2 separate regions of the Homo sapiens genome follow, and region 1 is linked to region 2. The links come from fine-mapping of genetic effects on gene expression. A gene starts in region 2. The other region holds a variant in brackets. All regions are shown on one strand. Distances are from middle to middle. Region 1 overlaps SMPD1 (sphingomyelin phosphodiesterase 1). Region 2 holds the start of APBB1 (amyloid beta precursor protein binding family B member 1).

Evidence for each region. PIP is the estimated chance that this variant, and not a neighbour inherited with it, causes the effect.
Region 1: its variant is fine-mapped to the expression of APBB1 in whole blood (TOPMed, PIP above 0.99).

Annotation. Positions count from the first base shown.
Region 1 is chr11:6,391,622-6,395,994 of GRCh38, forward strand. SMPD1 (sphingomyelin phosphodiesterase 1) reads left to right here. Exons shown (of 6, transcript NM_000543.5): 2 at 1-535; 3 at 1,595-1,766; 4 at 1,996-2,072; 5 at 2,275-2,420; 6 at 2,577-3,375. The coding sequence ends at 2,986. It overlaps APBB1 (amyloid beta precursor protein binding family B member 1), which reads right to left. Exons shown (of 15, transcript NM_001164.5): 14 at 4,165-4,341; 15 at 3,504-4,080. The coding sequence ends at 3,913. Among named protein-coding and RNA genes, the nearest start is that of SMPD1, 3.3 kb to the left of the region's middle. The variant G/A (reference allele first, on the strand shown) is at 1,912.
Region 2 is chr11:6,416,587-6,420,972 of GRCh38, forward strand. APBB1 (amyloid beta precursor protein binding family B member 1) reads right to left here and starts at 2,508. Exons shown (of 15, transcript NM_001164.5): 1 at 2,399-2,508. RefSeq lists silencers at 2,276-2,465, 2,476-2,875.

The sequences.
Region 1 (4,373 bases), 25 kb before region 2:
CGCCCCCCAAACCCCCTAGCCCCCCAGCCCCAGGTGCCCCTGTCAGCCGCATCCTCTTCCTCACTGACCTGCACTGGGATCATGACTACCTGGAGGGCACGGACCCTGACTGTGCAGACCCACTGTGCTGCCGCCGGGGTTCTGGCCTGCCGCCCGCATCCCGGCCAGGTGCCGGATACTGGGGCGAATACAGCAAGTGTGACCTGCCCCTGAGGACCCTGGAGAGCCTGTTGAGTGGGCTGGGCCCAGCCGGCCCTTTTGATATGGTGTACTGGACAGGAGACATCCCCGCACATGATGTCTGGCACCAGACTCGTCAGGACCAACTGCGGGCCCTGACCACCGTCACAGCACTTGTGAGGAAGTTCCTGGGGCCAGTGCCAGTGTACCCTGCTGTGGGTAACCATGAAAGCACACCTGTCAATAGCTTCCCTCCCCCCTTCATTGAGGGCAACCACTCCTCCCGCTGGCTCTATGAAGCGATGGCCAAGGCTTGGGAGCCCTGGCTGCCTGCCGAAGCCCTGCGCACCCTCAGGTACTTATCGTCCGTGGAAACCCAGGAAGGGAAAAGAAAGGTGAATGAAAGTGAAGGGAGAAGGGAACCTGGGGCATTGTCTCTGATTGCTCTAGCATGAGTCCTTAGTGCTCTTCATTTGGCTCCCCTAATCTGACTCCTCCTTCCCTTTCTACTGTTTTGCCGCACCAGGCTTTTTTTTTTTTTTTTTTTTTAGTTTAGTTTTTGTAGAGACAAGATCTTGCTATGTTGCCCAGGCTGGTCTCAAACACCTAACCTCAAGCAATCCTCCCGCCTCGGCCTCCCAAAATGCTGGGACCACAGGCATCAGCTACTGCTCCTGGCCCTCCCTTTTTTTTTTTTTTTTTTTTTTTTTTTTTGAGATGGAATCTTGCTCTGTTGCCCAGGCTGGAGTGCAGTGGCACCATCTCAGCTCACTACAGCCTCCACCTCCTGGGTTCAAGCAATTCTGCCTCAGCCTCCCAAGTACCTGGGACTACAGGTGCACGCCACCACACCCAGCTAATTTTTGTATTTTTAGTAGAGATGGGGTTTCACCATGTTGGCCAAGATGGTCTTGATCTCCTGACCTCATGATCTGCCCACCTCGGCCTCCCAAAGTGCTGGGATTACAGGCATGAACCACTGCACCCAGCTTTCCAGCCCTCCCTTTCTACTCTTATCTCCAGCCACCCTCCTTCAAAGGTCTGGCAGCATAACCTCTCTATGCCCCAGCTGTGTCTTTGCTCATGTTGGCCCTCTGGAAATGATTTCCCCCTTTTTTTTAAGTGCTCCAGTTTTTCCCACCTTATCCATCCCATGTCATCTTCCCTCTGTGTGGTCCTTGCTTCCCATTCTAGCTAACTCTTATCCCTCCCCCATACTCCTGGAGCCCTCTGCCCTCAGAGTCTTTTGTGTCACACAGACCCAATAATTAGAACTGTTTGGTCTCTGGCTAGACTGTGAGCTCCTTGCAGGTGGGGAAGATGTCATGTATGCTTTTACCCTCCACCCAAATGCCCAGCACAGGAGGACCAGGATTGGAACAAGTGTTGACCTCTCATGTTTACTTTGTTTCAGAATTGGGGGGTTCTATGCTCTTTCCCCATACCCCGGTCTCCGCCTCATCTCTCTCAATATGAATTTTTGTTCCCGTGAGAACTTCTGGCTCTTGATCAACTCCACGGATCCCGCAGGACAGCTCCAGTGGCTGGTGGGGGAGCTTCAGGCTGCTGAGGATCGAGGAGACAAAGTGAGGGCCAGTAGTGGGAACACGGTGGTGCTGGGGGACAAGCAGGCTCCTGTTGAGCTGGAGCACCTCTGGGCACAGAAGTTTTATTTTCCTGGCATTCCCAACAAGTGTTCCCTGGGGATTCAGCTCATGGTCACTGTTGAAA[G/A]CCTTCATTCAGTCCCCCTTTCTCTAGCCAGGGCTGCCTGGACCCCTGGATGCCCTGATTACCATCCTTAATTCTCCCTACTAGGTGCATATAATTGGCCACATTCCCCCAGGGCACTGTCTGAAGAGCTGGAGCTGGAATTATTACCGAATTGTAGCCAGGTAGGACGGAGATGAGGGTGGGAATAGGGACAGGGTGAGTGTCTGAAGGCTGAAAATTCCCTTGAGCATCTCACCATCCCTGTTGTCCCATGGAGTGGGGAGGCTCCTCACTAGAACAGGTTGGAGAAAGAGGGCATCCTATCTCCCCAGATGTCTTCCTACCCCTCCCTAGAATCTTCTGAATGTAGTACCTTCTGGCCAGGTATGAGAACACCCTGGCTGCTCAGTTCTTTGGCCACACTCATGTGGATGAATTTGAGGTCTTCTATGATGAAGAGACTCTGAGCCGGCCGCTGGCTGTAGCCTTCCTGGCACCCAGTGCAACTACCTACATCGGCCTTAATCCTGGTGAGTGAGGCAGAAGGGAGCCTCCCTTATCCTGGAGTTGGTGGGATAGGGGAAGGAGGTTGGAGCCAGAGCCTGCAAAGCATGGGCAGGATGTGTGGCCCCTCCCTGGAGTTACCCTTGCTCCTTGCCCCTCCAGTCAGCCCCACATCCTTGCAGGTTACCGTGTGTACCAAATAGATGGAAACTACTCCGGGAGCTCTCACGTGGTCCTGGACCATGAGACCTACATCCTGAATCTGACCCAGGCAAACATACCGGGAGCCATACCGCACTGGCAGCTTCTCTACAGGGCTCGAGAAACCTATGGGCTGCCCAACACACTGCCTACCGCCTGGCACAACCTGGTATATCGCATGCGGGGCGACATGCAACTTTTCCAGACCTTCTGGTTTCTCTACCATAAGGGCCACCCACCCTCGGAGCCCTGTGGCACGCCCTGCCGTCTGGCTACTCTTTGTGCCCAGCTCTCTGCCCGTGCTGACAGCCCTGCTCTGTGCCGCCACCTGATGCCAGATGGGAGCCTCCCAGAGGCCCAGAGCCTGTGGCCAAGGCCACTGTTTTGCTAGGGCCCCAGGGCCCACATTTGGGAAAGTTCTTGATGTAGGAAAGGGTGAAAAAGCCCAAATGCTGCTGTGGTTCAACCAGGCAAGATCATCCGGTGAAAGAACCAGTCCCTGGGCCCCAAGGATGCCGGGGAAACAGGACCTTCTCCTTTCCTGGAGCTGGTTTAGCTGGATATGGGAGGGGGTTTGGCTGCCTGTGCCCAGGAGCTAGACTGCCTTGAGGCTGCTGTCCTTTCACAGCCATGGAGTAGAGGCCTAAGTTGACACTGCCCTGGGCAGACAAGACAGGAGCTGTCGCCCCAGGCCTGTGCTGCCCAGCCAGGAACCCTGTACTGCTGCTGCGACCTGATGCTGCCAGTCTGTTAAAATAAAGATAAGAGACTTGGACTCCAGACCCCTGTGTGACTGTCCCAATTTCTTCTTTCCAGGCAAGCAGGGCAAGGAGATCTTTGGAGCAAGATCATAACTGAGGCACAGGCTAATGGGTTGATGGTGTGGTACAGGCATAAGAAGGCACACAGCAGTGCAGACAGACTTTATTAGTGATATCAATACAGCAGAGGTGCCCATGGAGCAGGGGGAAGGGACCCATGCCTGGACCAGTCCCTTCCTCCTTCTGCCCCTGCTGGGTCCAGGAGGATGAGGCCTGGCCTGGACCAGTTCCTCCTGTTCCACCTGAAACACATGGGGATGGAGAACCAGGGCTGGCCTTGCTTCCTGCTCCTCTTGTTACCACTCCAGTGTTATCACTTCCTTGAAGGGATTAGATCTCTCCCTCCCCAGCTCCTAGGCAGGGAACCGTAGCTACTGGGGAGGGGCATATTTGGGAGGCCTGAGGCCTAGGAATAGCCTCTAGACCCCTCCCTGACCCACACCCTTTAGTTCCCTGGGGCCCAACACAAGCAGGTGGAGGGAAGGTGGGGGCTTCTTCATGGGGTATGGGCCCCCAGCCGTTTGGGCTTCAGGGAGCCCCACAGCGACTGAACACCCCTGCGGACAGTCCACCCTACACGCCGTGCCACAGACTCAGCAGGGGGTGCTGGGAGGCAGGAGGTGGAGGCCTGGGAACGGGCATCCAGACACTTCTGGTAGCGAAGCTGCGGAGGCAAGCAGGGCAGTCACTCCCCAGCCTACCTCCCATGGGGCCACGCCACCACCACACCACCCTACTAGTAGCTTACCATGCACGCAGCCTGCACAGCCTCTGAGAGGCTGGCAGCATTGGGCTCGCACCAGAACATGTGGCAGCAGAAGGAGGCTGGGCCGGCAGCCATGATGAATGCAAACGTGTGGACATCTCTGCCCACGGCCAGGAAGGAGAGGAAACGCACCCGACACTCTCCCAGCACTGCCTCTGTCTGCATGGAGGGAACTCAGTTAAAAAGGAACA
Region 2 (4,386 bases):
CTGAAGTAGGGGTACATCTTGACATGTCCTTCTCCTGCACTTGCTATGTTCAATCCATCTCTAGGTACTGATGATTTCCTCTCTGAGAAAAATTTCTGGACTTCATCTACTCTCCACATCCACTACCATCAAGGACAAAGACCTTAAGACAAAATTCCCTTTTTTTTTTTTTTGCGATGGAGTCCTGCTGTGTCACCCAGGCTACAGTGCAGTGGCAAGATCTCGGCTTACTGCAACCTCTGCCTCCCGGGTTCAAGCGATTCTTCTGCCTCAGCCTCCTGAGTAGCTGGGATTACAGGCACACACCACCATGCCCGGCTAATTTTTGTGTACTTTTAGTAGAGATGGGGTTTCGCCATGTTGGCCAGGCCGGTCCTGAACTCCTGACCTCAGGTGATCCGCCCGCCTTGGCCTCCTAAAGTGCTGGGATTACAGGCGTGAGCCATCACGCCTGGCCCTTAAGACCAAATTCTTAACATGGCCTAAATTTCCTGCTCAGTCTGGCGCCTGCCTTCCTCCTCCCTGCCCCTGGCTTTGGTCACACTGCTCTGCAGCCTCAGTAGCCTTCTTCTGATTCCTCGAAGACATGTGTTTTCCTTCTACAAGGTGTTTGCATGTGATTTCCATGCTTCCTGGGACCTCTTCTCCTACTCTCTAAGCTGAATTAACTTCTACTCATCCACTATATTTTAGTTCAAACGTCATGTTCTCAGAGAAGCTGTCCTCCAACCCTCTCTCCCTATCCCCGAGACCAGTTTAGCTACTGCTCTTGTGCGTTCTCAAGGCACCATACAGCTTTTCTTCATGGTACATATTACATTTGTAATGTTATTCTTATTTGATTTTTCTCCTAGATTGTCAGCTCCAAGGACTCAGTCTCTTTTGCTCACAATTATATCTTCAGGACATAACACAGTGCCTGGCATATATTAGGTGCTGAAATCATATTTATTGCATGAATAAGTGATTGGAAGCATTTTTCAAAGGATTACTCTGGGTACTGTGTTGAGAACAGTTAAAGGGAGGTAGGCAAGAGGGTATGCTATTAAAGTAGTCAAGGAAAAAAAATGGTGGTGGCCCAGATTAACTTTGGTGGCAGTGAGGAAAGAGCGAAATGAATGGATTTGAGAAATATTTAGGCAGTGGATGTGACAGAACTTGGTGAAATGAGATGCAGAGAGTGAGAGAGGGGTTAATCTCAAGTCTTGCTCATGACTCCAGATTGGCAAAGAGCCATTTTTGAGATTCGAAGGAAGAACAGATTTGGAAGTGGGGTACAGAGAAAACCACAGAAGATAATTTAGCTTGGAATCTATAGGTTTGGAACTCCTGTTTGTCTTTCAAGGAGATGTCAAGAGAGCAGCTGGACATATGAGTCTGGATTTCAGGAAAGAAGTCTGGGCTGGATATATAAATTTGGGAATCATTAGCATATATATGAAATTTGAAGCTTTGGGAGTAGATAAAATATCTGGGGAGAAAGAACAGATACTGAGAGAAGACAGCTCGGGACAGAGCCAAGAGCCTCACCAGCATCTAAAGAGAGGAGGAGAGGAAGCAAATGAGATTGAGAAGAGCAGACAATGCTGTAGGGCAGAAAGCAGGAAAATGCTTCAAGGAGAGTGAGTTGACATACCCCACCGAATACTACTCAAAGGTAAAGGAGATAACAGTGTCCACTGGAGTTCTCCACAAGGAGGTCTCCGGTGACCTTGGCCTAGACAGTTTCAGTGGGTGTCAGGGACACAGAGTGGAGTGCTTTTAAGAATGAATGGGAAGTAAGGAAATGAAGACAGCAAGCGTTGACTCTGAAGGGCGGAGAGAGCTGGGACTATAGCTAGAGGGGCTCAGAATGCAAGAGATACACAGGCCGATACAAAACAGGTTAGGAATTGGCAGTGGGAAAACTGCTTCTAATCAGTGTTCTTGGCAGTGCTAGGCCTCCTGGCTGAGCTGGGGACACAGCCGCCCCAGGGCACACCCCTCGGTCGCTGAGGGCAACAGAATGCGGCTTGACAGATCCAGGGCCTGGGACCCCTGCTGGAATCGGCGCGGCCTGCCAGCCCACCCCACCCCACGTCCCCTTCCCGGACCTGGGCCTCCCCTCCCCCAACACCCACTGCCCCTCGCTTCGCGTCCTCCATACCCGCCCCTAGTCACCCCGAGGGGCAGGAGGTAAAGGGCAGCGGAAGGGACGGTGTGAGGGCCCGAGTGGACCCTGCGATGGTGGGTATGAGAGGACGGTCTGCGGGCGCGCGGTGGAAGGGCGACCCGGGGATGGGGGATGGGGCCGGCCGGGGGACCCGGGCTGCCGCAGGGTAGGGGCTACAGGGTCCGCCGGCCGCTGGTGATCGGGACGCAGCCACCGGGGCTGGGCCGGGGCAGGGACACCTCCTACCTGCGCGGTGAGGCCCCGGGCCCAGATGACGGAGGTGGCTCAGGCTGCGGGGTTCGGGCTCCGCCGCGGCTTCTCCATCACAACATCCCCCGCCCAGGAGCGCGCGGGCCGCGGGGCCGCGCCCCGAGCGGCGGAGGCGCGCGCAAGGGGAGGGGGAGGGGCGCCATCTTGGGGCGGGCGCGGGAGCGAGCTCGGCGGGCGCGGCACTTGCCGCAGCTTCTTGGGGGCCTCACCCTGCGGGCGGCCCTCGGACCTCGGTGAGCCCCGCGGTCCAGCCCTCCCAGCAGACACCCCTGCAGCCGACTCCCTGGGACCCCCGCCTAGCGCGGCGCCGTCCTCCACTACTATTCCACAGACTCACCCTGCGCGCCCCGCAGCGCCCTGGTCCCGCACCCACGCCGGGAGACGCGCGGACGGGGCTGGAGCCCGAATGGCGGCGGCTGTGCGGCGCCGCGGCCGCGCGGGGAAGGATTCCCGGGAGGCACTCTGCGCCGCTCCTGCTGCACCGCTCCCTGACGTCCTGGTGGGGAGGCTCTGAGGACACAGCGTTGCTCATAATAATAGCTCGTATTTATTGACCACTTACACCGTGCCGGGCTCTCTATTAAACCGTTAACGCGCATTAATCTTCACATCAGCTCTGTAAAATCACCAGAATTATTATCCTCATTTTTCAGAGGCTGAGGCTAAGATTAAGAGAGGTAAAGCGACTTGCCCGCAGTCACAGTTAGTGATGAATTTAGACTGGAACTCCGATGTTTCTTGACACTGAAATACCTCTGCTGCTGAGCATAAAGCTGACATCAAGGCCTGGAAAATGTCAAGAATACATTGCTCCCCGGTAGAAATTCACAAGGAAGGGGATATTGTGAATGAAAAGTGTAAAGATGTAAGGAAGATGGTGGGGTGCAATACTTACTACAGACCCTCCCTGGATAGTGGGATACATCCCAATGGTCAGATCAGTGACCCAGAGGCCATCAAGGATAATGAGAGGTTATATTACCATCCAGAAAGCCTCTACATGCTAATCCCTCTCAGGTGCCTAAAACTAAAGATATCCAAATCTGAGTTCGTTCTTTCTTTCAAGGCAGGGTCTCACTCTGTCACCCAGGGGCAAGATCATGGCTCTCTGAAGCCTCAGCCTCCAGGGCTCAGATTCCTCCCGCCTCAGCCCCCGGAGTACCTGGGCCACAGACATGTGCCACCGCGCCTGGCTTTTTGTATTTTAGTAGAGAGGGGGTCTCACTGTGTTCCCCAGGCTGGTCTGGAACTCCTGTGTTCAAGCGATCCTCCCACCTCGGCCTCCCAAAGTGCTGAGATTACAGGCGTCAGACACAGTGTCCAGCCTCAATTTATTGTTTCATCCCCCTTTATTAGTCTTTTAAGGAGTTTCACTGGGGTGAAAAAGAACCCTCTTCAACACACACAACACAACACACATCCCACACTGGACACAACTCCATTCCATCCATTCCAATGAATGACACCAACTACTGGCTTCCCAAGCCAGAAGCTTCAAAGTCATCTTTGAATATACTTTTATTTTACTTGTGGTAAATATAAATGTTTTAACTTTTTATTATGGCAAATTTCCAATATATACTAAAGCAGACAGAACAATATAATGAACCCTCATATACCTATCATTCAGTTTCAACAATTATGAATTCACAACCAATAGTTTATAATGATTTGACAAATGCCTATGATATATGAACCATGTATCAGGTCCCAAGCCAGGCCCTAGGGATCTAAAGACGAATCAGATTTGACTGCATCTCACCTGGAGGAAATGACATCTGACCTGGGTTCTTGAAAGATGAAGAAGAATTACCCAGAAGAACAAAAGTGTCCTCATTCATTCATTCATTCATTTTCTTTCATCAAATAATTACTATGTATGAGGTACTGTCCTTGGTGCTAGCAACAGGTCAAGAAACAAGATACAGTTCCGTCTCTCATACAGCTTGAAATTTAACAGGGGA